Homo sapiens: one gene and its partner. The protein of the gene in region 2 purifies or fractionates together with the protein of the main gene of each other region. This does not show direct contact. Each region holds a gene or a part of one and is shown on either strand. Other genes may lie near its edges. The genes, in order: NUDC and MAP4K1.

Region 1 (16,088 bases), on a different chromosome or scaffold from region 2:
AGAACTGGTCGTCGAGTGGTGGAAAAACCCCACACATTTGGTGTCAGAACGGCTGTGAGTAAAAACCATTCTTAGGATGCAATACGCAAAATCCAGATTGTGGGAAACTTTGCCAGGACAAACGACCCTTTATTCAAAAAACAAATTGCAAGGAAAAAAGAGGTCTCTTGTGTTTTATTTTTTAAATCTTAAAATTTTTTTTTGTAGGCCAGGTAGGGTGACTCACGCCTGTAATCCCAGCGCTTCGGGAGGCCAAGGTGGGTGGATCACCTGAGGTCAGGATTTAGACCACTGGAGTTCGAGACCAGCCTGGCCAACAAGGTGAAACCCTGCCTCTACTAAAAATACAAAAATTAGGCTGGGCTCGGTGGCTCACACCTGTAAACCAGGCACTCTGGGAGGCCGAGGCAGGCGGATCACCTGAGGTCGGGAGTTCAAGACCAGCCTGACCAACTTGGAGAAACCCTGTCTCTACTAAAAATACAAAAATTAGCTGGGCGTGGTGGCGCATGCCTGTAATCCCAGCTACTTGGGAAGCTGAGGCAGGAGAATTGCTTGAACCCAGGAGACAGATGTTGTGGTGAGCCGAGATCAGGACACCGTACTCCAGCCTGGGCAACAACAGCAAAACTCCATCTCAAAAAAAAAAAAAAAAAAAAAAAAAAAAAAAAAAAAAAAAATATATATATATATATATATATATATATATATTAGCCGGGCGTGGTGGTGGGTGCCTGTAATCCCAGCTACTTGGGAGGCTGAGGCAGAAGAACTGCTTGAACTCAGGAGGCGGAGGCTGCAGTGAGCCAAGATCATGCCACTGCACTCACGCCTCAGCACCAGAGACTCCAAGTCAAAAAAAAACAAAACATTTTTTTTTTGTAGAGATGGAGTCTCATTATATTACCCAGGCTGGTCTTCAACTCCTGGGCTCAAGTGATCCTACCACCTCAGCCTCCCAAAGTGCTGTGATTACAGGCCTGAGCCACTGTGCCTGACCCTTAATTTTTTGTTTTTGTCTTTGTTTGAGGTCTCTTAATTTACAGGTTTCTATCACCCAGTGTAAAGTGTGAACCTTACTTGAATTAGGAATCAAACAATCGTAATCAAATACCCAATAAAAAAGACAAATGTCTTGACTAGATGATATATGATATCATCTAGTTCTGTGTCCCCACCCAAATCTCATCTTGAATTGTAGTTCCCATAATCCCCACATGTCATGGGAAGGACCTGGTGGGGGGTAATTTGAATCATGGGGGTGGCTACCCCCATGCTGCTTTCTTGATAGTGAGTTATCATGAGATCTGATGATTTTACAAGGGGCTTTTCCGCCTTTGCCTGGCACTTCTCCTTCCTGCCACCTTGTAAAGGTGGTACCTGCTTCCCCTTCACCTTCCACCCTGACTGTAAGTTTCCTAAGGCTTCCTCAGCCATGCAGAACTATGAGTCAATTAAACCTCTTTCCTGGCCATAGTACATGAGGGTTCTGTATTAGTCTGTTCTCATGCTGCTATGAAGGAATACCCTAGACTGGGTAATTTATAAAGAAAAGAGGTTTACGGCTGGGCACGGTGGCTCACGCCTGTAATCCCAACACTTTGGGAGGCCAAGGGGGCACGGAACACCTGACGTCAGGAGTTCGAGACCAGGTTGGCCAACACAGTGAAACCCTGTCTCTACTAAAAATACAAAAATTAGCCAGGCGTGGTGGCAGGCACCTGTAATCCCAGCTACTTGGGAGGCTGAGGCAGGAGAATCGCTTGAACCCAGGAGGCAGAGGTTGCAGTGAGCTGAGATCGCCCCACTGCACTCCAGCCTGGGTGACAGAGCGAGACTCTGTCTCAAAAGAAAAAAAAACAAAAAACAAAAACAAAAAAACCTGTCCTGGCCGGGCGCGGTGGTTCACGCCTGTAATCCCAGCACTTTGGGAGGCCAAGGCAAGTGGATCACGAGGCCAGGAGATCGAGACCATCCTGGCTAACACGGTGAAACCCCGTCTTTACTAAAAACACAAAAAATTAGCCGGGCATGGTGGGGGGTGCCTGTAGTCCCAGCTACTGGAGGCTGAGGCAGGAGAATGGCGTGAACCCAGGAGGCGGAGCTTGCAGTGAGCCCAGATTGCACCACTGCACTCCAGCCCGGGCGACAGAGCGAGACTCCATCTCAAAAAAAAAAAAAAACCTCTGTCCTTTATAAATTACCCAGTCTTGGGTATTTCTTCACAGCAGCATGAGAACGAAGTAATACCTTGTCACAGATGAGCTTTGGACTGGGACTTATGGGTTAATGCAGAAATGAATTAAGACTTTGTGGGGCTGTTGGAAGGGCATGATTGTGTTTTGAAATGTGAAGACATGAGATTTGGCGGGGGTACCAGGGGCAGAATGATACCGTTTGGCTCTGTTTCCCCACCCAAATCTCACCTTGAATTGTAATTCCCACATGTCAAAGGCAGTACCAGGTGGAGGTAACTGAATCACCAGGATGGTTTCCCCCATGCTGTTCTCATGATACGAGTGAGTTCTCACAAGATCTGATGGTTTTATTAGCGTCTGGCATTTCTTCTGCTGGCACTCATTCTCTCTCCTGCCAATCTGTGAAGAAATGCCTTCTTCCATGATTTTAAGTTTCCTGAGGCCTCCCCGGTCATGCAGAACTCTGAGTCAATTAAACCTCTTTTTTTTCTTCTTTGAGACGGAGTCTCGCTCTCTCGACAGGCTGGAGTGCCATAGCACAATCTCGACTCACTGCAACCTCTGCCTCCCACGTTTAAGCGATTCTCTTGCCTCAGCCTCCTAAGTGGCTGGGAATACAGGCACACGCCACCACACCCAGCTAATTTTTGTATTTTTAGGAGAGCTGGGGTTTCACCATGTTGGCCAGGATGTTCTTGATCTCCTGACCTCGTGATCTGCCCACCTTGGCCACCCAAAGTGGTGGGATTACAGGCGTGAGCCACCGTGCCCAGCCGTAATCCTCTTTTCTTTATGAATTACCCAGTCTGGGGTATTCCTTCATAGCAGCATGAGAACAGACTAATACAGAATCCTCATGTACTATTAGTGGTAGTGTCAAATGGTGCATCTGCTATGGAAAAGATCATGGCATTTCCTAAAAAAACTAAAAACTGGCTGGATGCAGTGGCTCAAACCTGTAATCCCAGCACTTTGGGAGGCCGAGGCGGGTGGATCACCTGAGGTCAGGAGTTTGAGACCAACCTGGCCAACATGGTGAAACCCCGTCTCTAATAGAAATACAAAAATTAGCCAGGTGTGGTGGCAGGTGCCTGTAATCCCAGCTACTCAGGAAGCTGAGGCAGGAGAATCGCTTGAACCCAGGAGGCAGAGGTTGCAGTGAGCCGAGATTGCATCATTGCACTCCAGCCTGGGCAACAAGAGTAATACTGTCTTAAAACAAAAACAAAAACAAAAACAAAAACTACCATATGATCCAATAGATTACACTGCCGAGTAACACCTGCAAGAATTGAAAATAGAATCTCAAAAGATTTGTGCACCTATGTTCACAAAAGTACTATGCACAATAACCAAGGGGTGAAAGCAACCCAAAAGTCCATCAGCAGAAGAATAGATTTAAAAAAAAAAATTGTGGCCGGGCGCGGTGGTCAAGCCTGTAATCCCAGCTCTTTGGGAGGCCGAGCCAGGCAGATCACGAAGTCAGGAGTTCAAGACCAGCCTGACCAATATGGTAAAACCCCGACTCTAATAAAAATACAAAAATTAGCCGGGCGTGGTGGCGTGTGCCTGTAGTCCCAGGTACTCGGGAGGCTGAGGTTGCAGTGAGCCAAGATCGTGCCACTGCACTCCAGCGTGGGCAAGAAACAGAGCAAGACTTGTCTCAAAAAGAAAAAAAAAAATTGTGATATATACATATAATGGAATATTATTCAGCCTTAAAGGGGATGGAAATCCTGTCACATGCTACAATGTGGATAAATCTGTGGACATTACATTAAACGAAATAAGCCAGTCACAAAGACATACATATTGTATGATTCCATTTATATGAAGTATCTACAGTAGTCAACCTACACAGAAAACAGAACAGCAGTTACCAGGAGGTAGGGGAGGGAACAAAGCGAAGTTGCTTAATGGGTACAGGGTTTCAGTTCCCTAAGATGCAAAGAGGTCTTACAAATATGTTTCTTAGTGTAAGTTCACTTAACACTACTGAACTGTACACTTAAAAATGGTTAACATGGGCCAGCACAGTGGCTCACATCTGTTATCCTAGAACTTTGGGAGGCCGAGTCAGGCAGATCACTTGAGCCCTGGAGTTAGAGACCAGCCTGGGAAACATGGTAAAACCTCATCTCTACAAAAAAAACAGAAAAATTAGCTGGGGGCCGGGCGCAGTGGCTCACACCTGTAATCCCAGCACTTTGGGAAGTCGAGGCAGGAGGATCATGCGGTCAGGAGTTCAAGACAGGTTTGACTGACATGGTGAAACTTCATCTCTACATTGTAAAAATACAATAATTAGCCCGGCATGGTTGTGCGCACCTGTAATCCCAGCTACTCAGGAGGCTGAGGCAGGAGAATCGCTTGAACCCGGAAGGCAGAGGTTGCAGTGAGCCAAGGTCACACCACTATACTCTAGCCTGGGCAACAGAGCGATACTCTGTCTCAAAAAAAAAAAAGAAAAAGAAAAATTAGCTGGGCATGATGGCACTGGAGTCCAAGCTACTTAAGGGGTTAAAGTGGGAGGATCACCTGAGCCTTGGGGAGGTCAAGGTAAGTAGTGATCATGCCACTGCACTCCAGTGGGTGACAGAGTGAGACTCTGTCTCAGAAATATAAATAAATAAATTAAATAAAAATTAAAAAAAAAAAAAGGGGCCAAGCGTGGTGGCTCACACCTATAATCCCAACATTTTAGGAGGCCAAGATGGGCGGATCACAAGGTCAAGAGTTTGAGACCAGCCTGGCCAATGTTACTGAAACCCTGTCTCTACTAAAAATACAAAAATTAGCCAGGCGTGGTGGTGGGCACCTGTAGTCCCAGCTACTTGGGAGGCTGAGGCAGGAGAAATCTCTTTTTTTTTTTGAGATGGAGTCTCGTTCTGTCGCCAGGCTGGAGTGCAGTGGCGATCTTGGCTCACTGCAACCTCTGACTCCTGGGTTCAAGCGATTCTCCTCCCTCAGCCTCCCGAGTAGCTGGGATTATAGGAGAGTGCCACCATGCCCGGCTAATTTTTGTATTTTTAGTAGAGACAGGGTTTCACCGCGTTGGCCAGGATAGTCTCGATCTCCTGACCTCATGATCCGCCCACCTCGGCCTCCCAAAGTGCTGGGATTATAGGTGTGAGCCACCGTGCCCAACCGGTACGAGAAATCTCTTGAACCCAGGAGGCACAGGTTGCAGTGAGCCGAAATGGTGCCACTGCACTCCAACCTGGGCGAAAAAGCGAGACTCTACCTCAAAAAAAAAAAAAAAAAAAAAAAGGCCAGGCGCAGTGGTTCATGCCTGTAATCCCAGCACTTTGGGAGGCTGAGGCAGGCAGATCACCTGAGGTCAGGAGTTCGAGATCAGCCTGGCCAACATGGTAAAACCCCATCTCTACTAAAAATACAAAAATTAGCCAGGCGTGGTGGCACACGCCTGTAATCCCAGCTACTCGGGAGGCTGAGGTGGGAGAACTGCTGGAACCTGGGAGGCAGAGGTTGCAGTGAGCCAAGATGGCGCCACTGCACTCCAGGCTGGGCAACAGAGCGAGACTCCGTCTCAAACAAACAAACAAACAAAAAACAAAACAAAGGTTAAGAAGGTAAATTTTATGATGTGCTTTTTACCACACTTTTTTTCTGAGACAGAGTCTCGCTCTGTGGCCCAGGCTGGAGTGTAATGGCATGATCTCGGCTCACTGCAAACTCTGTCTCCCAGGTTCAAGCAATTCTCCCACCTCAGCTTCTCGAGTAGCTGGGATTACAGGCCCCTGCCACCATGCCCAGCTAATTTTTGTATTTTTAGTAGAGACGAGGTTTCACCATTTGGCCAGGCTGGTCTCAAACTCCTGACCTCAGGTGATCTGCCCACCTCGGCCTTCCAAAGTGCTGGGATTACAGGTGTGAGCCACCGTGCCCAGCCCACTATTTTTTTTTTTTTTTTTTTGAGACAGGGTTTAGCTCTGTTGCCCAGGATGGATTACAGTGCCGTTTATCATGGGTCACTGCAGCCTCAAACTCCTGGGCTCCAGAGATCCTCCCACCTTGGTCTGCAGAGTAGCTGGGACTACAGGCTTGTGCCACCACTCTTGGCTATGATTTTCTATTTTTTGTACAGATATGCTCTATGTTGGACCAGACTGGTCTTGAACACCTGGCCTCAAGTGATCCCCCCATCTCAGCCCATATTTTTTTAAAAAACAAAAGAGCTGGGTACAATGGCGGCCGCAAAGGCGGGTAGGTCGCTTGAGATCAGAATCAGAAATTCAAGACCTGCTTGGGCAAGATGGTGAAACCCCCACTCTACAAAAAATACAAAAATTAGCTGGGTGTGGTGGGGCACGCCTATACTCCCAGTTACTCAGGAGGCTGAGGTGAGAGGACCGCCTGAGCCTAGTGGTCATGGCTGCAGTGAATCATGATCGCACTACTGGACACCATCCAGGCTGGGCAGCAGAGCGAGACCCTGTCTCAAAACAAAACAAAACACAATAGTAAGAGAGCATTGAGGGAAATCAGAACCCTGACTGGATGTGGATCTCTGGTAATATTTAAAGAATTGGTATGCTTTTCTGGAGAAGGTATACCATTACAGTTACATTTGTTGTGGCTGTTGTTGTTGTTTTTGTTTTTGAGACGGAGTTTCACTCTTGTTGCCCAGGGTAGAGTGCAGTGGTGCGATCTCGACTCACTGAAACCTCCGCCTCCTGGGTTCAAGTGATTCTCCTGCCTCAGCCTCCCGAGTAGCTGGGATTACAGGCGCCTACCACCATGCCCAGCTAATTTTTGTATTTTTAGTAGGGACAGGGTTTCACCATATTGGCCAGGCTGGCCTCTAACTCCTGACCTCAGGTGATCCACCCACCTCAGCTTCCCAAAGTGCTGGGATTACAGGTATGAGCCACTGTGCCCGGCCCTACAGTTATGTTTTTAAACAGTAACTTTTCTTTTAGATAGTCACATAATATTTACTCATCAAAAAATATGCCTTCAATTATATGTAAGTGGAATGCAATAGGGTAGTCCCACCGTACCCACGAAGATTTGTTCCAGGACCACTCCCCAACACTAATTTCCGAGGATGCTCAAGTCCCTTATATAAAATGGCATTTTATTTGCATATAACCTACATGCATCCTCCTGCATACTCTCAATCATCCCTAGATTACCTAATACCTAATACAATGTAACTGCTACGGATGTAAGTAATTAGATTATATTTTTTTAATTTGTTTTTTTTTTTTGTTTTTTCAGAAGGGGTCTTGCTATGTTGCCCAGGCTGATCTCAAATTCCTGGGCTCAAGCCATCCTCCCATCTCAGCCACCCAAGTAGCTGGGATTACAGGTGTGCGTCACCACGTCGGGCTTAATTCATATTTTTTTATTATTGTACTGTCATTTAAAAAAAATTTTTTTTCCAAATATTTTCCATCAGTGGTTGGTTAAGCTCATGGATGCAGAGCCCACGGATACAAAGGATCAACTGTATTTGTCCTTTTGTGACCAGCTTATTTCATATAACATGATGTCCTCCAAGGTACATCCATGTAGCAATGGACAGGATTTCTTTCCCTTTTAAGGCAGAATAACATCCCAGAGTATGTCTATACCACATTGTTTATCCATTCACCTGCTGATGGAGCCTTTGGTTCCTTCCACCTTTTGGCTGTTATGAATAAGGCTGCTGTGAACATGGGTGTGCAAGTAAATCCTCCTCCTGATTATTTTGGGTATATACCCACAAGCATGACTGCTAGAACATACGATAGTTGTATTCTTTAACTTTCTGAGAAACCGCCATAACGTTTTCCATAGCAGATGCACCATTTGACATTCCCACCACAGTGTACAAGGGTTCCAGTTTCTCCCTATCTTTGTCAACACTTGTTATTTTGTTTTATCTTTTAACGGATGCCATCCTAACAGATGTGAAATAGTATCTCATTGTGGGTTTTGTTTTGGAAACAAAGTCCTGCTCTGTCACCAAGACTGCAGCGTAGTGACACAATCACGGCTCACTGAAGCCTCAACCTCCCAGGCTCAAGCAATCCTCCTACCTCAGCCTCCTGAGTGGTTGGGACTAAAGGCATGTGCCACAAGGCCTGGCTAATTTTTATTTATGAGTTCCTAAATATGAAATTCACAATTAAATGTTATTTTTCCTCTGCACTGCATATTTTCTCATAATCTGGTGTTCTTCAATTGACTTAAATGTCTTTTACCATTTACAAAGTTTCAGCATCTGAAAAGGCAAACAGCTATCTCTTCTTTTATAGCTTCCAGTTTTCTAATGCTGAAAAGTCTCCCCCACATAAGACTATAGTTTCCTAGTTTTCCTTACAGGATTTTTATTATTGGTATTTTTATAGAGTATGACAGATGGCAAATTTTGTTTTTTTAACCAAAAAAAATTCATGTAGCAGCATGACTTATTAAATCATGCTTTGCCTACTGAACTGAATTACCACAATAGACACATTAAATCCTCATAAATGCCAGACTTTATTTCAGGATTCTCTATTCTGCTTCACTGGTCCATTTTTCTCTTCTTCTATCAATACCATATTGATTAGATCACTATGGCTGTATTCAAGTCTACAATTCCTAGCCCCAAAAGCTATAAAAACTAAAAGTGCTTTTGTATTTTTTTGTAAGTTCGTGGCATGAGGTATTTACAGTCTTCATTTCTTCTACTTGGTATGTATATTGATATATATATTTCTGCAGAAATATTAATGTGTTTTGTTGCAGGATGCAGCTCCTGGCCTGCGATTAGATTATTGTATGTAATGCACATTATATGCACTGTATTGCCTTTCTGAAATCCAAATAATTTTAAATACCAAAACACATGTGGCCCCAAGGGATTCTGAAGTGGATTGTGGTCTTTGCCTTTTTTTAAATCCTCGTAACATCCTTGTAAGGTAAGGACTGCTCCCTCTTACAGTTAAGAAAAATTAGGGGCTGGGCGCAGTGGCTCATGACTGTAATCCCAGCACTTTGAGGGGCCGAAGCGGGCAGATCACGAGCTCAGGAGTTCGAGACCAACCTGACCAACATGGTGAAACCCCGGCTCTACTAAAAATACGAAAATTAGCCAGGCATAGGGGCGGGCGCCTGTAATCCCAGCTACTCAGGAGGCTGAGGCAGAAGAATCGCTTGAACCTGGGAGGCGGGGATTGCAGTGAGCTGAGATCGCTCCACTGCTCTCCTGCCTAGGTCATAGAGCAAGACTCCGTCTCAAAAAAAAAAAAAAAAGAAAAAGAAAAATTAGGTAGTCCCAGCACTTTGGGAGGCTAAGGCGGCTGGATCACGCCACTGTGCTCCAGCTGGGACAACAGAGCAAGACCCTGACACACACACACACACACACACACACACACACACACACACGGTTCATCTCTCTCCCTTCTTACAGCCACTGTGCTCCAGCTGGGACAACAGAGCAAGACCCTGACACACACACACACGGTTCATCTCTCTCCCTTCTTACAGCTATTCATCCTTCATATCTGAAGCGTCACTTCCTCACAAAGTCTTCTCTGAGCCCCCAACCTAGGTTAGTTTTATGTTCCCAGGGATTCTGCCCCAACACCCACTACTTTTTCACTGCTTGTTTTTTTTATTTTGGCTACACTGTGAGATCCATGAAAACAAAGAACAAATCTGTATTCACCTCTGCAATCCCAAAAGGTTTGATATAGCACCTAACATAATCCAAAGTGTTAAGTGTTCAATAAACATTCATTGAAAAAAGTAGGCCGGGTGCAGTGGCTCACGCCTGTAATCCCAGCACTTTGGGAGGCTGAGGCTGGGGGATCACCTGAGGTCAGGAGTTTGAGAACAGCCTAACCAACATGGTGAAACCTGTCTCTACTAAAAATACAAAATTAGCCAGGCATGGTGGTGCATGCCTGTAATCCCACCTACTTAGGAGGCTGAGGCAGGAGAATCACTTACAACCTGGGAGGCAGAAGTTGCAGTGGGCTGAGATCGTGCCATTGCACTCCAGACTGGGCAACAAGCATGAAACTCCGTGTCAAAAAAAAAAAGAAAGAAAAAATAAATGACTAGTCCCAAAAGCTATAAAAACTAAAAGTGCTTTTGTATTTTTTTGTAAGTTTGCGGCATGAGGTTTTACAGGTAGTCTGACCCACAGAAAGGCCAGAGGTGTTAGTGACAATACAGAAAAAATATCTGAGCTAGAAGGGGTCTACTTTCTCCCATTTTACAGATGTAAAGATGGAAAGAACCAGAGCATTGCTGGGAACTCGACTAGGTGACAAAGCTAGACCAAGAACCTGGGACTCCTACTCTTAGGTAATGTGTCTATGACAGAGTGGCCTCAGACATTCAGGACACATTAAAGAGTTTACCAACTTGTTAGAATCCTGAAGCCACAGAAAACGGTTTGCAAAGAACGTCTACGTCTCCTTCTTATTATGTCTCTTGTTTATGTCTATTATAAAGATAATGGCGCCGGGCGTGGTGGCTCACGCCTGTAATCTCAGCTACTCAGGAGGCTGAGCACAATAATTGCTTGAACCCAAGAGGCAGACATTGCAGTGAGCCAAGATCGCACCATTGCACTCCAGCCTGGATAAAAAGAGCGGGACTCCGTCTCAAAAAAAAAAAAGGCTGGGCATGGTGGCTCACACCTGTAATCCCAGCACTTCGGGAGGCCAAGGCAGGCAGATCACCTGAGGTTGGGAGTTCAAGACCAGCCTGGCCAACATGGTGAAACCCCATCTCTACTAAAAATACAAATATTATCCAGGCGTGGTGGTGCATGCCTGTAATCCCAGCTACTCAGGAGGCTGAGGCAGGAGAATTGCTTGAACTCGCAAGGCGGAGGTTGTGGTGAGCTGAGATCGTGCCATTGCACTGCAGCCTGGGCAACAGAGTGAAACTCTGTCTCAAAAAAAAAAAAAAAAAAAAATTCCTCATGATATAACAATTTTCAAAAGTATAATTACAACTTTAAGGAATCAGAAAGAAGTTCAAGGTCTCAGAATCAATACTACAAAACAGAAATCCTTAAACTCTGAGTCACAGCATCTGGGAAGACATGCCTCTGAGTATTTCTAAATTTATTTCTTTTTTTTTTTTTTTTTTTTTTGAGACGGAGTCTCACTGTTGCCCAGGCTGGAGTGCAATGGCGCGATCTCGGCTCACTGCAAGCTCCGCCCCCCGGGGTTCACGCCATTCTCCTGCCTCAGCCTCCAGAGTAGCCGGGACTACAGGCGCCCGCCACCTCGCCTGGCTAATTTTTTGTGTTTTTAGTAGAGACGGGGTTTCACCGTGTTAGCCAGCATGGTCTCGATCTCCTGACCTCGTGATCCGCCAGCCTCGGCCTCCCAAAGTGCTGGGATTACAGGCGTGAGCCACCGCGCCCGGCCTTCTAAATTTATTTCTAAGCATCAGTTTCTAATATTTGCCCAGTCTCATCTCCTAGGTTATTAGTTAAAACCTCCTCAGGCCGGGTGCAGTGGCTCACACCTGTACTCCCAGCGCTTTAGGAGGCCGAGGTGGGTGGATCACTTGAGGTCAGGGGTTCGAGACCAGCCTGGCCAACATGGTGAAACCTCATCTCTACTAAAAATACAAAAATTAGCCAGGCATGGTGGCGCCTGCCTGTAATCCCAGCTACTTGGGAGGCTGAGGCACAAGAATCACTTAAACCCAGGAGGCGGAGGTTGCAGTGAGCCTAGATTATGCCACTGCACTCCAGCCTGCGCAACAGAATGAGACTCCATTTCAAAAAATAAAATAAAATAAAATAAATAAAAGTAAAAATAAAACCTCCTGGCCAGGCACAGTGGCTTATACCTGTAATCCCAGCACTTTGGGAGGCCGAGGCGGGTGGATCATGAGGTCAGGAGTTCGAGACCAGCCTGGCCAATATGATGAAACCTCGTCTCTATCAAAATACAAAAATTAGCCAGGTGTGGTGGCGGGCGCCTGTAATCCCACTTACTCAGGAGGCTGAGGCAGGAGAATTGCTTGAACCCAGGAGGCGAAAGTTGCAGTGAGCCGACATTGCGCCACTGCGCTTCAGCTTGGGTGACAAAGCAAGACTCTGTCTCAGAAAATAAATAAATAAATAAAACCTCCTCATTGGAAAAGGAACTGAGAGGCACTGTGTCGGGGCAGAGGACAGGTTTACAACAGACTGGTTTCAACCCTGGTTCTCCCACAGCTCAGCTCAAGACTTTGGATAAGGTGCAAAATTCTCTTGAGCCAATTTCCTCAATGGGGATAGTTAACACCTGCCCCTCTTGTAGAACTGCAAAAGTCATGGGAAATAAGGTAGATAGAGGGCTGAGCAAGGAGTGGAGCTTGAAGAAATGACAGCTTCCTTCCCTTCCCCAATTCCTCACCTTTGGCATTTCGCTTCTGCTGAAAGTTACTATTATGCCAAAGAAAGGCCAGGTGAGCTTTTCTTCTGAAGAGACAGAGCCGCCCAAAGGACAGTGGTTTCCAACACTTACCTTCTCTGCCATCCCTTCTTCTCCTCCAATGAAAAAGTCTGTTTTGCGTCGAAGGAAGCTGAAGAAGGTGTTCACAAGCTGAAAGAGGGGGAGAAGATTAAAGTAGTAGAGCTGCATTTGGGAGCCCTTCAACTGCACACAAGTCAACTTGTTTTGTCTAGGAGGGAACTTGGGACTTGACTATTTTTCCTCTGAGCTTCCCAACTGAGGAGATTATCTCCCCAGCAGGTTCTCTTAGTCACTTCCACCATGAAGCAGATTTCTCATATCCTGTGTGTGTGTGCGCCTTTCACTTTCCTTGTGATGCTAGAAGCAGCCTAAGCGTATGGAACACTCCTCTGCATCCAGGGCATGAAAAGCCTGGGCCCAGCTTTCCTCTCCAGAAAGTAAAAAGCCCATCAAGACACTGGCTCACACCTATAATCCCAGTACTTCAGGAGGCTCAGGTGGGCGGGTCACTTGAGGTCAGGAGTTCAAGACCAGCCTGGCCAACATGGTGAAACCCCGTCTCTACTAAAAACACAAAAATTAGCTAGATTACAGGTGGTGGGCACCTGTAATCCCAGCTACTTGGGAGGCTGAGGCAGAGAATCACTTGAACCCGGGAAGCAGAGGTTGCAGTGAGCCAAGATCGTGCCACCGCACTCCAGCCTGGGTGAGAGACTCTTGTCTAAACAAAAAAAAAGACACTGGCTAAGTTACCGGGTCAAAGCAAGAAGGAGGAGAGCAAATGAAGCCACTTCAAAGGAGGATAAGATGGATTAATTCTGGCTGGAGTACAAGTGTAGCCAACGGTTTGAGTATCAGATGGACATATATTACCTTTTGACTTTGCAGAAGTTTCTTAACTCTGTACAACAGGAATAAGATGCAGTACCTATTTCTAGGGACCTGGTGAGGATCATGAGGTCAAGGAGGTGAGGCCTTTAGCAATGTATGGCACAGAGCAAGAGACCCACTGGCAGAGGGTAAACACCTTACAAATAGGAACCATGAACCATGGCTTAGTCTGTCTGCCACCTGCAATGCTGGGCACCAGATATGGCTAAAGGTACATAATCAGTAAAATTCTTGCTGAATGAAACAATCTAGTGGTGACTCAAGGTCAGCACACACAAACCCTTTATTTGCCCAAGAGTGGGTCTAAATCTGATTAAATCTGATGCTAGAACATATCTCAATGGTTTCCGTTCTTGCTTCTAGACAGTTTTTCAATTTGCTCAAAAATGAACTCGCTCCCAAATCCAGTTTTGTGCGAACAGTTTAGAGGAATGGAGACAGGAAGGCTTTTCACACTTGCAAATGAGAAACACTCTCCCCACCACAAAGGGCTTAGAAGTCCTTGGTCACCAGACACCTAGGTTACATAGGAATAGAAAGTTCAATGGAAACCTACCTCCAGTAAGACACAATCAGCCATGGACTCTGGGAAGCACACTGACCTGTCTAGGTGAGAACCATGTTGCATGATCTAGGCAAATCCTTGCCACTTCTCTGGCTCTGAGAATGAGAGTTCTGATCCTGACAGACTTTTCTACCGTTAACTTTGTGTTTGTTCCAAAAAAACCAACTCCAGAATCTGTAACAGTTGGCCCTTATTGTCGAGTGTGGGACACACATCAATCACACGACAAATACTTGTTGAATGAAAAAGCCTTATTACTGAGAACTTACGGTTCTTAACTACTCTCTGGAAACCGGTATTCGCAGCTGTCTCACAGATAAGGAAACTCAGGCTTGGAGAGATGTAAAGGTTCCAAGTTGGTAGGTGGTGGAAACTAATCGTGAACACAGGCCTCCTATTCCCCCATTCAAGGCCTAACAAGACCACGTGCTAACATCAGCCCGCTCCCCTACCACACACATTCGACGGCTCGCCCCAAGCCTTGGTGGATCCAAATCACGATATTTGCGACGGTTCTTACTAAGGGATGCTCCTTGGAAGCCGCCATCAAAGTGGAAACGGGGGTGGGGGCATATGTGAAACTAAAGGGGGATCCTAAGCTCAGGGATGCGATAATTTGCTACTACTGAGGGGCGCCGGGGGCCCGGGACTGATGCGAACCGGGTGAGACCTGCTGGCGGGTGGCCAGGCCGGAAGCTGGGCGCAGTGAGAATGTAGGGGCATCCCAGAAGCCCGCGAGCCGCTGGGGTGGGTCTCAGCCCTCGAAGGCAGAGAAGGGCGGAAGGAGCGTGGCCAAGGCCGCCGGGTGGGCCGACGCCGCGCGGGCCGTTACCTCCTGCACGCCGCCCTCGTGCTGCTGAGCCATGGCCAGCAACATGCCGTCGAACCGCTCCTCCTCCTGCTCTCCGCCCATCGCGCCGGCTCCGATCCACGTCCCGGAGCTCTGCACTCTAGTCCCGCGCTCTCTACGCTCCTGCGGGTCGCGCCGGGCCCAACGACTCTAGTCGTCCGCCTTCCGCAGCGGAGCCGGAAACACGCACGCGCGCGGCTGCCCAGGCCCGCCTCCACCTCCTCTCTTCCCGCCTTCCTCCCGGTTTGCGGCCATTGACCGTGCGGCAAGCAACCCGCTTCGCCGACCATTGGTCGACATTCGGAGCCAATCAACAAGCGCGTCCACGAAGCGGTAGGCGGAGCCGTGGGCCCGAGAGTTTGGCATGAGTTGCTATGGTCACCCGATGCCGTGGAGACTTCTAGAAAGCCCTGGACTCAAATCTGGCAGGGTTGGAAGTTAAAAAGGGACAAGTTTTGCCCCTCTCCCTTGCTAGCGACCCCCCCAGCTTGTAGAGCAGTGAAGCTGAAAGTAGCCTTACTCATCTCTTCCAATCCTAGAAGGGACTTACCACAGGACAGCCTCCTCCTCATCGACCTCACTGCGTACTTGACTAGGGCCAGCTTCATGGGAGTACAAATTGCAGTCGCACAGCACCCAGGCTTAGAAAGGCTCCACGCTTGATTTCATGGCCTTCTGTTATAGTCTTGAAATTCTTAATAATTTTGGAATAAGGAGACCCACATTTTCATTTTGCACTGGGCCCAGGAAATTATGACAGGTGCTGAAATTGACCTTCACTTCTGTTAATGCGGGGACAGGACCCAGCCATCCAAGCTAATCCCTCCACTTGTGCAATGAATCTCATCATCTTAGTCTTTTCAGGAACTCTATCCCTGTTAATTATCCCTTTTTTTAGCTTATGCATCACAAATATCTTTCTTCTTCCCTTCAATTTACAAACACGCTTTAATATCTTTTTGTTTGTTTTTAGAGATGGGGTTCTTGCATTGTCACCCAAGCTGGAGTGCAGTGGCACCATCTTGGCTTACGGCAGCCTTGAACTCCTGGACTCAAGCCATCTTCCCCACTTCAGCCTCCAGAGTAGCTGGGACTACAGGCTCACATCACCACGCCCTGCTGTTTTTTTTTTTTTGTTTTTTGTTTTTTGTTTT
Region 2 (16,088 bases):
TCCAGCCTGGGGGACAGAGTGAGACTCTGACTCAAAACAACAACAAAAGACAAACAAAAAACAATAAAACTAGTGGGTGAAAATCTGATGAGAAACAACGTATTTACAGACTATTTACCTCGTCTCAGTGAATCTCCCCAAAAGATACTTCTTTTTTTTTTTTTGAGACAGAGTTCACTCTTGTTGCCCAGGCTGGAGTGCAATGGCGCGATCTCGGCTCACTGCAACCTCCGCCTCCCGGGTTCAAGCGCTTCTCCTGCCTCAGCCTCCCGAGTAGCTGGGATTACAGGCATGCAACACCATGCCCGGCTAATTTTGTATTTTTAGTAGAGACAGGGTTTCTCCACATTGGTCAGGCTGGTCTCAAACTCCCGACCTCAGGTGATCCACCTGCCTCGGCCTCCCAAAGTGCTGGGATTACAGGCGTGAGCCACCGCGCCCGACCGGTGGGATACTTCTTATTACAAAGAAAAACAGAGGCTGGGTGCGGTGACCCCTGCCTATAAGCCCAGCACTTTGGGAAGCCTACACAGGTGAATCTCTTGAGTCCAGGAGTTCCAGACCAGGCTAAGTAACATGGCGAAACCCTGTCTGTACAAAAAATACGAAAATAAGCCAGGTGTAGTGGTACGCGCCTGTCATCCCAGCTACCCGGGAGGTTGAGGTGGGAGGACTGATTGAACCCAGGAGGTCGAGGCTGCAGTGAGCCATGATCGCGTCACTGCACTCCAGCCAGGGTGACAGAGAGAGAATCTATCTTTAAAAAAAAAGAAAAAGGGAGAAAAAAGCAACTTCACAGTGGAGAGAACTGGCTGATTCTACCTTAACCAAATGACCGAAGTTAATATCACCAGTAATGGGACAAACTAGCATTGTGTACTTCCTGAAATGATGCACTGAGAAAGACATCTTTCTGCAGTATTCCTGCCCAAAATTCAGAACGTGGAAACCTCAAACACAGTTAAGGGACATTTTAGAAAACAAATTTCCTTTAATTTTTAAAAAGGTCAAAGCTCCTTTAAGACAAAAGAAGTTTTAATTATTTTTTCCGGCTTAATTATAAAGAAACATGGCTCCTAAGTGCCACCTATGATCTTGGACCAGAAAAAAAAAAAAAAAAAAAAAATATATATATATATATATATATATATATATATATATATATATAATCACGGGCGTCACTAGGACAACGGGTGAAATTTTTTGTTGTTGTTGTTGTTGTTTTCTGAGACAGAGTCTCGCTCTGTCACCCAGGCTGGAGTGCAGTGGCGTAATCTCGGCTCACTGCAACCTCCACCTCTCCGATTCAAGTGATTCTCCTGCCTCAGCCTCCCAGCTGGGATTACAGGCACGTGCCACCACACCCAGCTAATTTTTGTATTTTTACTAGAGGTGGGGTTTCTCCATGTTGGCCAGGCCCATCTCCAACTCCTGACCTCAGGTAATCTGCCCACTTCAGCCTCCCAAAGTGCTGGGATGACAGGCGTGAGCCACCACACCTGGCCAACTGGTGAAATTGAGTAGGGGTATGAATTAGAAGGTTGTGATGTTTCAGTGTTGTTTTCTTGATTTTGACAGCTGTGCTGTGGTTTGTAACATTATGTCCTTGCTTTGATTCAGGAAACATACACTGAAGTATTTTAGGGGTAAATGGGCATCACGTCTGCAATTCATTCCCAAATATTCATTAAAAAATCACACACACACACACACACACACACACACACACACATATACTTGTATGTGTGGTGTGTGCGCATAAGAAAGAGAAGAGGCCGGGCATGGTGGCACATGCCTGTAATCCCAGCTACTCGGGAGGCTGAGGCAGGAGGAGTGCTTGAACCCAGGAGTGGGAGGTTGTGGTGAGCTGAGATTATGCCATTGCACTCCAGCCTGGGCAACAAGAGCGAAACTCTGTCTCAAGAAAAGAAAAAAAAAAGAATAATAAGGCAAATGCGGTTAAAAAGATTAACATCTGGCCAGGTACAGTGGCTCACGCCTGTAATCCCAGCACTTTGGGAGGCAGAGGTGGGTGGATCACCTGAGGTCAAGAGTTCGAGACCAGCCTAACCACCATGATGAAAGCCCACATCTACTAAAAAAACAAAAAAATTAGCTGGGCGTGGTGGTGTGCAACTGTAGTCCCAGCTACTCAGGAGGTTGAGACAGGAGACTTGCCTGAACCCGGGAGGCAGAGGTTGCAGTGAGTGGAGATCCACTGCACTCCAGCCTGGGCCACACAGCAAGACTCCATCTCAAAAAAAAAAAAAAAAAAAGATCTGGTTAATCTGGATAAAAGGGATTTTTGCAACTTCTCTGGGAGTGTGAGTTTTAAATTATGTCAAAATAGTTAAAATAGTTATTTTTAATAGTTAAAAATTTTTAATAAGATAAAAATCTAAAATAAAAATGCAGCCAGGGCTGGGCACGGTGGCTCATGCCTGTAGTCCCAGCACTTTGGGAGGCCGAGGCGGGCAGATCACCTGAGATCAGGGGTTCAAGAGCAGCCTGGACAACATGGCGAAAGCCTGTCTCTACTAAAAATACAAAAATTAGCCGGGCACAGTGGCACATGCCTGTAATCCCAGTTACTCGGGAGGCTGAGGCAGGAGAATCGCGTGAACCCAGTGGGTGGAGGTTGTGGTGAGCTGAAATCACGCCACCGCATTCCAGGCTGGGCAACAGAGCAAGAATCCGTCTCAAAAAAAAAAAAAAAATGCAGCCAGGTGTGGTGGCTCATGCCAGTAATCCTAACATTTTGGGAGGCCAAGGTAGGAAGATTGCTTGAGGCCAGCAGTTCAAGGACAGCCAGGGCAACATGGCAAGACCCCGTCTCTACAAAAAAATTTTAAAAATTAGCCAGTTGTGGTGGTGTATGCCTGTGGACCTAGCTACTTGGGAGGCTGAGGTGGGAGGATCAGTTGAGCTCAGAAGGTCAAGACTGCAGTGAGCTGTGTGTGTAACACTGCACTTCAGCCTGCGCAACAGAATGAGACCTTGTCTCAAAAATGAAATAAAATTAAGGCCAGGTGCAGTGGCTCACTCCTGTAATCCCAGAACTTTGGGAGGCCAAGGCAGCTGGATCACCTGAGGTCAGTAGTTTGAGACCAGCCTGGCTAACAAGGCGAAACCCCGTCTCTACTAAAAATACAAAAAATAGCCAAATGTGGTGGTACACACCTGTAAACCCAGCTACTTGGGAGGCTGAAGCATGAGAATCACTTGAACCTGGGAGGCAGAGGTTGCAGTGAGCTGAGATTGTGCCACTGCACTCCAGCCTGGGCAACACAGCGAGACTCTGTGTCAAAAATAAATTTTAAAAAAATTTTATAAATAAAAGAATTAAAATTAAAAAATAAAAGGATTGGCCAGGTGCAGTGGCTCATGCCTATAATCCCAGCACTTTGGGAGGCCGAGGCAGGTGGATCACCGAGGTCAGGAGTTCGAGACCAGCCTGGCCAACATGGTGAAATGCCATCTCTACTAAAAAATATAGTATTAGCCGGGTGTGGTGGCACATGCCTGTAATCCCAGCTACTTGGGAGGCTGAGGCAAGAGAATCGCTTGAACCTGGGAGGCAGAGGTTGCAGTGAACCAAGATCACACCATTGCACTCCAGCCTGGGCAACAAAAGCAAAACTCCATCTCAATAAATAAATAAATAAATAAATAAATAAAAGAATTGCTGGGCATGGTGGCACATGCCGGTAGTTCCAGATACTCAGGAAGCTGAGGTGGGTGGATCACTTGAGCCTGGGAGGTCAAGGCTGCAGTGAGCCGTGGTCGTGCCATTGCACTCCAGCCTTTGAGTACAGTGAGAAACAAAACAAAAAGAGAGAACGCCCCCGTGGCTGCAGTGCAGAGAACAGACTCTAGGGAGCAGGGATGGAAGCAGGGTGACCAGGTGAGACACTGTCCAGGCTAGAGATACCTTGCTGGGGACACCTCAGAATGCTCTCTTCACATCAGAAGCCCCCTCCCAGGTCCTTCTGCACCCCACCCCACAACATACCTGGGGGAGCCAAGCAGACGGAAAGTGAGGGTAGGGTCTCTCAGCTCCTGTAGCAGCTAGGGAAAAAAAGTGTGTGTCTCAGTGCCTGGAAGATACCTCCACTGTCACTACGAACATGGCTCCCTTAAAGACAGCAAGGAGCTGGGCACGGTGGCTCACGCCTGTAATCCCAGCACTTTGGGAGGCCGAAGTGGGTGGATCACCTGAGGTCAGGAGTTCGAGACCAGCCTGGCCAACATGGCAAAACCTCGTCTCTACTAAAAATACAAAAATTAGCTAGGCATGGTGGTGCGCGCCTATAGTCCCAGCTACTCAGGATCTGAGGCAGAAGAATCACTTGAACCCGGGAGGCAGAAATTGCATTGAGCTGAGATTGCGCCACTGGGCGTGCCACTGGAGCCGAGATCTCCAGCTGAGATAATTTTTGTATTTCTACTGAAAATACAAAAATTAGCCAGCTGTGGTGGCGCATGCCTGTAGTCCCAGCTACTTGTGAGGGTGAGGCACGAGAATCGCTTGAACCTGGGTGGCAGAGGTTGCAATGAGCCAAGATTGTGCCACTAACACTCCAGTCTGGGGAACAGAGCGAGACTCCATTTCAAAAAGAGGGAAGGAACTGAGTGAGCAAAAATAAATAAATAAAAATACTAAAGTGTAAGGGCAAAGTCTGACACAGTATTCTGTGAGATAAACACCATTTTCCAAATGAGGACAGTGAGGCACAGGAAGGTTAAGTCATTTGCCCAAGGCCACTCAGCTGAATTCCAACCCAGACAGTCTTGTCTTAACTATCCATATATCTCTATAGTGGTCCCCATTTTACAGTTGGGGAACAGAAGCTTAAAGAGAAGCAACGTTGCCAGCCCAAGGTCACAGTAGTGGCCCAGGATGAGATTGGGACTCAAGAAATCCAAGAGCAGCCAGGTGCAGTGGCTCACACCTGTAATCCAAGCCACTTGAGAGGCTGAGGAGGGAGGATTGCTTGAGCCCAGAAAGTCAAGGCTACAGCTAGCTATGGTTGCACCACTGCACTTCAGCCTGGACAAGAGAGAGAGACCCTATCTCCAAAACAAACAGGCCGGGTGAAGTAGCTCACGCCTGTACTCCCAGCACTTTCGGAGGCTGAGGCGGGCAGATCACTTGAGGTCAGGAGTTCGAGACCAGTCTGGCCAACATGACAAAACCCCGTCTCTACTAAAAATACAAAAATTACCTGGGCATGATGGAGTGTACCTGTAATCCCAGCTACTCGGGAGGCTGAGGCAGGAGAATCACTTGGACCCAGGAGGCAGAGGTTGCAGTGAGCTCGGATCATGCCACTGCACTCTGCCCTGGGTGACAGAGCGAGACTCTGTCTCAAAAAATATATAAAAATGGCCAGGAGTGGTGGCTCACACCTGTAATCCTAGCACTTTGTGAGGCCAAGGAAGGCAGATTGGCTGAGCTCAGGAGTTTGAGACTAGCCTGGGCAACATGGTGAAACCCTGTCTCTACTAAAAATACAAAAAAATTAGCTAAGCATGGCGGCATGCACCTGTAGTCTCAGCTACTCAGGAGGCTGAGGCAGGAGAATTCTTTGAACCTGGGAGGCAGAGGCTGCAGTGAGCCGAGATCGCGCCACTACACTCCAGCCTGGGTGACAGAGCAAGAATCCATCTCCAAAAATAAATAAATTTTATCTATCTATCTATCTATCTATCTATCTATCTATCTATAAAATAGGCCGGGTGTGGTGGCTGACAGCTGTAATCCCAGCACTTTGGGAGGCCAAGGCGGGTGAATCACCCCAGGTCAAGAGTTCAAGACCATCCAGCCTGATGAACATGGTGAAACCCCGTCTCTACTGAAAATACAAAAATTAGCCAGCTGTGGTGGCGCATGCCTGTAATCCCAGCTACTTGGGAGGCCGAGGCAGGAGAATCGCGTGAACCCGGGAGGTGGAGGTTGCAGTGAGCCGGGATCGCACCACTGCACTCCAGCCTGGGCAACAAGAGTGAAACTCCGTCTTAAATAAATAAATAAATAAAAATAAAATAAAAAATAAATCCTGGGGCAAAGAAGGGGATCTATCTGAACTGAAATTTGGAAGATGTTTCCCCTCCAGGACTTCACACTCTGACTCAGGAGTTCTCGGAGCCCATCTGATGAATGTCATGATGGAGGCTGGGGGGCAGTGATGTGGAGTTTGGATGGAGGGGCTTACCTGATCCGAGCCTAGAGCCCACACCTGCACTCCATGCTTCCAGAAGGCCTGAAGCTGACCTCCAACCATAGCTGGGGAGAAAGCAATGCCCGTTACCCTTGGGGATCACTTGAGTTTCCACCCCTGATCCTGGGCTCTCCCGTCCCTGCACAGACCCACGGCCTCCACCGCTTCGGTCATGGGGATCTCAGGTGTGCGAAGTCCCCGGACTGGGGACCCCTCCGGGGTCACCAGCTTCACAGAGCCTGGAAGGAGATAGACGGTTTTAAGAACTGTGAGCAAGGCTTAGAGGGTTACTAAGGGACCAATCCATAAATTCAGTGTGAAAGCTATGTAGGACAGGGGCAAGGCCCAGAGGGGCTCAGGGGGTTCTGAGAAGCACAAGTTCGGAGGCAGAGATCTAGGGACTGCAGCTGGAGGGGTGGGGAGGAAGGGGAGGAAGGAGGGTTCTCACCATCCATCAACACCATCACCATATCTTCCTCTACCTGGGTCACCTGCACGGGTCCCCTGTGCTCTGTTTGGGGGGAGTGGGTTAAGGATTGACCCCACCCCATTCCCCTTTCCCCACACCACCCCCAGAAGGCCAGTACCTGTGCTTTAGCCACCGCCTCAGTTCACAAGCAAGTGGGCTAAACCCCGCCCACCATCCCGGTCCCACCCCATCATCAATCTCCCCAGTTAACTAAAACCTGCCATTCTCCCTTCTCCGCCCTTCCAGCCCTTTCTCAGTCCCGTAGTGCCTCAGGCTAAGCGAAGCCCCGCCTCCAGCTCCGCCCCTCCGGATCTGATAAGCCCCGCCCTCAGCAAGACTCCGCCCCACTCACCGGTGCTCATCTCGCCCAGCCAGCAAGAGAGCGCGCCAAAGCGCACCGTGTGGAAGAGCACCGACTTCCCCGGCCGCCCGGGGCTCACGCCGATGCACACAGCGGGCAGCTCAGAGCCTGGCCCGGTCAGCAGCGCGAACACGGACAGAGGCGTCGGCAGTGGGAACAGCACCTGCTGCGGGCCGCACAGGGAGGGGCGGGCTAGGGGGTGGTTCAGGACGGGGCCTCAGGGGGCGTGGCTTGTAGCTGGCCTGGGACTTCCGAACCAGGGCCCTAAGTCTTGGGGGATGCCGTCTAGAAATGTCAGGGGATAAGGCCTGGTGCCTCCGCGGGAACGGGGGTCGTGACCTCCGAGTGGGTGTGGCTTCCATGTGGGGGCATGCCACCTTGGCGGCAGACGGGCAGGGCCCCAAAGATAGCAAAACCTGCTTAGACACTCAAAGAGACAGGCTCTAAATGGGCTCTACTAGGACACCCAGGGAGTGGCAGCATTGAGCCTGAGGAATAATTAGGCCCAGGTGTGAGGGGCGGCGCTTAAGGATCAGGATGGCTTCAGAAGGACGAGGCTCCAAGCGCAGACCGCAGGTGGGCGGGGCCTCGGGAGATTGGGGCGGGGCCTCGACGGAGGTGGGGCTTCATGGAGCTCTTGATAGAAGCGCAAAGGGTGCAAGGCCTTAGCCACCCACTCCTCAGAGTTCCCAGCACCCTCCCAAGCCCCTTACCCGGACAAGCAGGAATTTGTTCATGGGCTGGTACCACTGAAGCAGGACAACGGACGTCTCCAATGCACCGCACAGGAACGGGCCCCCAGAGCTCGCACCCTCCGCTGTGGCATGGGCAAGGATGAGTCAAGATCAATGCCCTCTATCCTCCTCGCCACCCACACTACCACCCATCTTCTGGGTTCTGGACACATTGCCTTAACTCTGTAACCTTCTCAGGTGGATGCAGTTCAAGCCCCTCCTCTGGCCTGGCCCCGCCCACTCTCTGCACACCCGTGAAGCTCTCTCTCACCCACACAGCACGCCCGGCAGCCTTTGGTGTCCTGGATCTTGGTGGAAACCATGTTCTTCCTGGAGAATAGGTAGGTGTGAAGGGGGGTAGGACAGCAGGAGGCAGAGGGGCATGGGAGGAATTATAAGGCTGTGTGGTGCCATTCATTGGGAGCTGGTACCTTGCCAGTAGGCGGTGGGGGCTAATGTGAGCGATGGGGTTTCCTGCTCTGGTCTCTTTCCGTTCCAGCAGGCCAAGGATGCTATGAGAATACAGGTGGGGGGTCTTTCCTGCAGGGTGTGTGTATGTAGGGGGAAGCAGGAAGTTATAGGATCCCATATACCACTTCCTTTCCTCCATCCCTTCCCTCAGCCCCATCCCTTTGTCTGAAACTCCCAAGCCTGCAAGTCTCAAGTACTTGTCATTCATTCATTCATTTCTCACTCCACATAGATTGAACGTCCATTGTAGGCCAGGCCTGCTGTGCTTGGCTCTGGTGAACAGTGATGAGCATAAAAAATATGTTCCCTACCCTCGTGGTATTTGTAGCCGTATCAGAAACTCTGGACACATAACCAGTCAGATGAAGTTACACATCTTACAAAGTTTTAGAAGAAACACATCTAGAAAATCTTCTAGTTTGTCATCACAGATGTGGCTTTCACTAACTCATGAATCCCATTTGGCTTGGTGTTTCCCCCAAAACTAGAAATTATTTCATTTATTTATTATTATTATTATTATTTTAGACAGTCTCGCTCTGTCACCCAGGCTGGAGTGCAGTGGTATAATCTTGGCTCACTGCAGCCTCTGCCTCCCAGGTTCAAGCAATTCTCATGCCTCAGCCTCCCAAGTAGCTGGGAGTAGAGGTATGCGCCACCATGCCTGGATAATTTTTGTATTTTTAGTAGAGACGGGGTTTTACCATGTTGGCCAGTCTGGTCTCGAACTACTGACCTCAGGTGATCTACCCGCCTCGGCCTCCCAAAGTGTTGGGATTACAGGTGTGAACCACCGCACCCGGCCTATTTATTGTTATATATAGACAGGGTCTCATTCTGTCTTCCAGGCTGGAGTGCAGTGGTGTGATCATGACTCACTGCAGCCTCTAACTTCTGGGCTCAAGTGATCCTCCCACCTCAGCCTCCCGAGTAGCTGGAACCATAGGTGTGTGCCACCACACCCAGCTAATTTTTTTTTAATTTTTAGTAGAGACGAGGTCTCACTATGTTGCCCAGGCTGATCTAGAACTCCTGGGCTCAAGCAGTACTACTGCCTTGGCCTCTCAAAGTGCTGGGATCACAGGCATGAGCCACTGCACCCCGTCCAGATTTTGAAATCTATAACTTGCTCACTCTATCTTAGTAAAGTATGGAATAAGTTCTGATTGTCATCTGAACATGAAAGCTATTTAAAGACTAACTTAGGGCTGGGCACGGTGGCTTACACCTGTAATCCCAGCACTTTGGGGGGCTGAGACGAGTGGATCACCAGGTCAGGAGTTCGAGACCAGCCTGGCCAACATGGCGAAACCCCGTCTCTACTAAAAACACAAAAAATTAGCCGCGTGTGGTGGCAGGTGCCTGTAATCCCAGCTACTTGGGAGGGTGAGGCAGGAGAATCGCTTGAACCTGGGAAACGGAGGTTGCAGTGAGCCGAGACTGCGCCACTGCACTCCAGTCTGGGCAACAGAGTGAGAGTCTATCTCAAAAAAAAAAAAAAAAAAAAAAAGGACTAATTTAGGCCAGGTGCGGTGGCCCACACCTGTAATCCCAGCACTTTGGGAGGCCAAGGCGGGTGGATCACCTGAGGTCAGGAGTTTGCGACCAGCCTGGCCAACATGGTAAAACCCCATCTCTACTAAAAATAAAAAATAAAAAAAGTAAAAAAAAAAAAAGCCAGTCATGATGGCTCACATCTGTAATACCAGCTACTCGGGAGGCTGAGGCACGAGAATTGCTTGAACCCAGGAAGTAGAGGTTGCAGTTAGCCAAGATCACGCCCCTGCACTCCAGCCTGGGCAACTGAGTGAGACTCGGTCTCAAAAAAAAAAAAAAAAAAAAAGGCTAATCTAAGGCCAGGTGTGGTGGCTCATGCCTGTAATCCCAGCATTTTGGGAGGCCAAGGCAGTTGGATCACCTGAGGTCAGGAGTTTGAGACCAGCCTGGCCAACAGGGTAAAACTCTGTCTCTACTAAAAATACAAAATTTAGCCAGGTGTGGTGGTGCACACCTGTAATTCCAGCTACTCAGGAGGCTGAGGCATGAGAATCACTTGAACCTGGGAGGCAGAGGTTGCCGTGAGCTGAGATTGTACCACTGCGCTCCAGCCTGAGTGACAGAGGGAGACTCTGTCTCAAAAAAAGAAAAAAAAAGACTAATTTATTGTAGAAACTACCTCAAAATTGACTTGAGAGGTGAGGACTATTGTGAACCCCATTTTACAAATGGAGAAATTGAGGCTTGGGGAGCACAGTCAAAAAGTGTCTGGGATTTGAACCTAGGACTTTGTGACCAAGCAGTCTAAGTTTTTTTTCAGCTGTGCCCGTCTACTTCCCAGCCCCCGAACCCTTGGACCCCTTAACTTCCGACCCCATCCCACCTGCTACCCACAGCCAGACCTGAGAGAGACATGAGAACGTTGTTGATGGAGTACACCCACGTAGTCCGGCTAGGAAAGAGCTGCAGGGAATGGGAGAGATGGCTCTGGTGACACCCCAGCAACCCCCGACTCCGGCCCTTGCCCTTGCCCTGGCCCGGTATGGTTCCTCACCATTTCCAGCGTGGCCTCCTGGTCATTCCGGTTCAGGATGAAGATGCCTTCCTCTGCCCCCAGGAGCAGGTGCTGGTCTGGAGGCACAGACAAGGACGCTGGGACCGACTTCATCCTCAGGGACCTCCCAGATCCCCACCTGTCTGACCTCAAACACTGACACTCTGTCCCCAGCTCTGACCCTCTATTCTTTCTCCAAACCAATACTCCCAGCCTCTGTTTCCCCAAACAAAGCCAGAGCGGACGGTCCCGCAAGCCAGTCTCACTCTCCCTCCTTTTGACTACCCATATTCTGGTGGTTCTTTCTTCTCTGCCCAACTGTCTTCTGAACCAAACTGACCCCAACCTTAGACCTGTCCCCCAAAATAGTCCTCTGATTTCCTCCCCTCTTTCTCCCCAGTTCTGATACCCTAATGCCAATCCTAACATTGACCTTCAAACTCAGACACCCCCAAACAGGACTTTTTCTGTCCAGTGTGACCTGTTCCTTTAACACTGACCTTGTCTTCATCTCTTTGATCTCTAGATTCTGTCCCTTTCTGGCTGCATCCTAATCTCTAAAATTCCTCACCCCAAAATGCTGCTCCCAGTCTCCCTATCATTAACCTCCAGCTGTCCATCTTTCTCGTGCTCCAAACTCTAACCTTTTTGTTATATTCTGACACTCCTGGCCCCTGAATTCCAATATTCCTACTTTCACTCTCCAACTCATCCCTCTACCCATTTTTTTTTTTTTTTTTTTTTTTTGAGACTGAGTCTTGCTCTGTTGCCCAGGCTGGAGTGCAGTGGCATGATCTCAGCTCACTGCAACTTCCGCCCCCTGGATTCAAGCAATTATCCTGCCTCAGCCTCCTGAGTAGCTGGGATTATAGGCACGTGCTACCACGCCTGGCTAATTTTTGTGTTTTTAGTAGAGACGAGGTTTTACCACGTTGGCCAGGCTGGTCTCAAACTCCTGACCTCAAATGATCCGCCCGCCTCCGCCTCCCAAAGTGCTGGGATTACAGGCGTGAGCCACCATGCCCGGCCTACCTAGCTTCTTTTGTATTTTTAGTAGAGACGGGGTTTCACCATGTTGGCCAGGCTGGTCTTGAACTCCTGACCTCAAATGATTCACCCGCCTCAGCCTCCCAAAGTGCTGGGATTACAGGTGTGAGCCACCACACCTGGCTGCCCTCTATGCATCTTTGATCACCAAATCCTGAGTGTAAGGACAAGCTCCGCCCCTGTTTCAGCCTGGCCACACCCCAACTCCATTAAGCTCCTCCCCGTCCCTGCCTTTGTGCCTTCCTTAGGCTTCTCCCCACCCCTACTTTTGCTCTCCCATTCCCTACAGGATCTCCTTGACCCTCCAGAATGCCCACCCTTGGTGGAGGGATGTGTCCAGGCGGCCGTGCTGTGGATCCGGAGGGGGCAGCCATTGAACAACTTTACGAGAAGGGCACATCCCTGGGCAGGTCGCCGCGGGGCCAGGCAGCAGATCCGGCAAAGAGAGCAGGGAACAGGAAGGGGCAGTGGTTACGACTTTGGAGCGAGAGTGCCAAGGTTCAAATCCTGCCTCTTACCTTGGTGCAATTTCCCATAATCTATCCCTGTAATACACTTTTTCATACATTGAGTTTTCTTTTCAGTTTGTTTTTGTTTTTTTTTGTTGTTGTTATATATTTCTTTTTTTAGTTTTTCCTCCACTATCCTAAATCATCAGCATTTGTTTTTTTTAAGACAGAGTCTCACTCGGTTGCCCAGGCTGGAATGCAATGACATGATCTCAGCTCACTACAACCTCTGCTTCCCAAGTTCAACTGATTCTCATGCCTAAGCCTTCTGAGTAGCTGGGACCAAAGGCGTGTGCCACCACACCCAGCTAATTTTTGTATTTTTAGTAGAGATGGAGTTTTGCCATGTTGCCCAGGCTGGTCTTGAACTCTTGGCCTCATGTGATTCACCTGCCTCAGCCTCCCAAAGTGCTGAGATTACAGGCGTGAGGCACCACTCCCAGCTGTCAGTTTTGTTTTTGGAGATGGAGTCTCACTCTGTTGCCCAGGCTGGAGTGCAGTGATGCAATCTCAGCTCACTGCAACCTCCACCTCCTGGGCTCAAGCAATTCTTCTGCCTCAGCCTCCTGAATAGCTGGGATTACTGGCACACAACACCACGCCTGGCTAATTTTTGTATTTTAGTAGAGACAGGGTTTCGCCATGTTGGCCAGGCTGGTCTCGAACTCCTGACCTCAGGTGATGCGTCTGCCTTGGTCTCCCAAAGTGCTGGGATTACAGGCATGAGCCACTGTGCCTGGCCAGCATATATATATATACACATATACATATATATATAGACACACACACACACACACACATATATATACACACACACATACATATATACACACATATACATATATACACACATATACATATATACATATATACACGTGTACATATATACGCATATACATATATACACATATACATATATATACACACATATACATATATACATATATATACACATGTACATATATACGCATATACATATATATACACATATACATATATATACACACCTATACATATATACATATATACACATGTACATATATACGCATATACATATATACACACATATACATGTATACATATATACACACATATACATGTATACATATATACACATGTACATATATACGCATATACATATATACACATATACATATATACACACATACATATATACATATATACACATGTACATATATACGCATATACATATATACACATATACATATATACACATGTACATATATACTTATATACACATGTACATATATACACACATGTACACATATACGCATATACATATATACACATACATATATACACACATATACACATGCACATATATACGCATATACATATATACATATACATATATACACACATATACATGTATACATATATACACATGTACATATATACGCATATACATATACACATATACATATATACACATGTACATATATACACATGTACATATATACACATGTACATATATACGCATATACATATATACACACATATACATGTATACATATATACACATGTACATATATACGCATATACATATATACACATACATATATACACATATACATATACACATATATATACACATGTACATATATACGCATATACATATATACACATACATATACACACACACATACATGTATACATATATACACATGTACATATATACGCATATACATATATACACATATACATATATACACACATATACATATATACACATGTACATATATATGCATATACATATATATACACGTATACATATATACACACATATACATGTATATGTGTGTGTATATATGTATATGTATATATGTATGATTAATTATGCTATGCATTTCATCTTTGAATCATTTCCAGTGCTGGAGGTATAAATTATACATACTTTTAGCCGGTAGCCAACCAGGCACGGCTGTAATCCCACCAGTTTGGGAGGCCGAGGTGGGAGGATCACTTAAGCCCAGGAGTTCAGGACCAGCTTGGGCAACATAGTGAGACCCTGCCTCTATAAAACATTTTTTTAAAAATTAGCCAAGCTGGGCCGGGCGCGGTGGCTCACGCCTGTAATGCCAGCACTTTGGGAGGCCGAGGCTGGCAGATAACTTGAGGTCAGGAGTTTGAGACCAGCCTGGCCAACATGGCAAAACTCCGTCTCTACTAAAAATACAAAAATTAGCTGGGCGTGGTGGTGGGCGCCTGTAGTCATGGCTACTTAGGAGGCTGAGGCAGGAGGATCACTTAGACTGGGGAGGCAGAGGTTGCAGTGAGCCAAGATAGCACCACTGCACTCCAGCCTGGGCGACAGAGTGAGACTCCATCTCAGAAAAAAAAAAAAAAAATTAGCCAAGCGCTACTAGGGAGGGTGAGGTGCATGGATTGCTTGAGTCTCCGAGGTCAAGGCTGCAGTGAGCCATGATCGCGCCACTGCACTCCAGCAGCCTGGGCGACAGAGCGAGATACTATCTCAAAAAAAAAAAAAAAAAAAAAAAAAGACTTTAGAGAGTTCTAATTCATTTTATGCATTTGTTGGCAAATTTGATGCCACAAAGGTGCATTATCACAACACTGACTACGTGTGTAGGCATTATGCATGTACGTAAAAACACTGAAACTTCCTGAATAAAGAGATGTTCTTTTTGTACATCTCCATTTATGAGAGGTAAAATTTCTTGAGATCTTGGCTCTTTGGGCAACTGCATATGTGGTAGTGACTCATGGAGGTTTTGATGGATCTTGTCAAAAGACTCTAACTTCTGGACTCAAGCAATCCTCCCACCTCAGCTTCCCAAGTAGCTGGGACCATAGGTGTGTGCCACCACGCCCAGCTAATTTTTTAAATTTTTAGTAGCTGGGCGCGGTGGCTCATGACTGTAATCCCAGCACTTTGGGAGGCCGAGGCGGGCAGATCACAAGGTCAGGAGATCGAGACCATCCTGGCTAACACGGTGAAACCCCGTCTCTACTAAAAATACAAAAAATTAGCCGGGCCTGGTGGCGGGCACCTGTAGTCCCAGCTACTCGGGAGGCTGAGGCAGGAGAATGGTGTGAACCTGGGAGGCGGAGCTTGCAGTGAGCCGAGATCGCGCCACTGCACTCCAGCCTGGGTGACACAGTGAGACTCTGTCTCAAAAAAAAAAAAGCATGCCAGACGCGGTGGCTCATGCCTGTAATCCCAGCACTTTGGGAGGCCGAGGCAGGTGGATCACCTGAGGTCAGGAGTTCAAGACGAGCCTAACCAACATGGTGAAACCCCACCTCTACTAAAAATACAAAATTAGCCGGGCATGGTGCTGCATTGCCTGTAATCTCAGCTACTCCGGAGGCTGAGGCAGGAGAATCACTTGAACTAGGGAGGCGGAGGTTGTAGTGAGCTAAGATCGCGCCACTGTACTCTAGCCTGGGCAACAAGCAAAACTCCGTCTTTAAAAAAAAAAAAAAAAAAGCAGAAACAACAATCCTGCCTCAGCCTGCCTCCTCAAAGGTATTTATATGACCTTGGGTAAGCCACTTACCCTCTCTGTGCTTCAATTTCCCCATTTGTGAAATGGGGGATAACATCTCTGTGATATCTTCTTCACTCTGTGAAGCTTTATGCCATGTAATGATAGGAGATAAGTGTAGGGCACAGAGAAGCGCTCAACAAATGTCACCTGTTGTTACTGTCAGTCCTGCCACCCCCTCCCCACCCCACCAGG

Evidence for each region.
Region 1: the proteins of MAP4K1 (region 2) and NUDC purify together in Homo sapiens (affinity purification with mass spectrometry; 3 studies listed by BioGRID and IntAct, with this or other methods). This does not show direct contact.

Annotation. Positions count from the first base shown.
Region 1 is NC_000001.11:26,920,758-26,936,845, reverse strand, and holds the start of NUDC (nuclear migration protein nudC), read right to left. Parts: upstream 15,104-16,088; 5' UTR 14,998-15,103; coding exon 14,917-14,997; intron 12,758-14,916; coding exon 12,680-12,757; intron 1-12,679. UniProt on the Homo sapiens protein: Plays a role in neurogenesis and neuronal migration. Necessary for correct formation of mitotic spindles and chromosome separation during mitosis. Necessary for cytokinesis and cell proliferation.
Region 2 is NC_000019.10:38,589,270-38,605,357, forward strand, and holds part of MAP4K1 (mitogen-activated protein kinase kinase kinase kinase 1), read right to left. Parts: intron 12,426-16,088; exon of another isoform or gene 12,257-12,425; coding exon 12,172-12,256; exon of another isoform or gene 12,144-12,171; intron 10,885-12,143; coding exon 10,808-10,884; intron 10,717-10,807; coding exon 10,656-10,716; intron 8,326-10,655; coding exon 8,217-8,325; intron 8,127-8,216; exon of another isoform or gene 8,116-8,126; coding exon 8,057-8,115; exon of another isoform or gene 7,984-8,056; intron 7,869-7,983; coding exon 7,765-7,868; intron 7,218-7,764; coding exon 7,043-7,217; intron 6,733-7,042; coding exon 6,670-6,732; intron 6,461-6,669; coding exon 6,371-6,460; intron 6,287-6,370; coding exon 6,216-6,286; intron 4,069-6,215; coding exon 4,013-4,068; intron 7-4,012; coding exon of another isoform or gene 1-6. UniProt on the Homo sapiens protein: Serine/threonine-protein kinase, which plays a role in the response to environmental stress. Appears to act upstream of the JUN N-terminal pathway.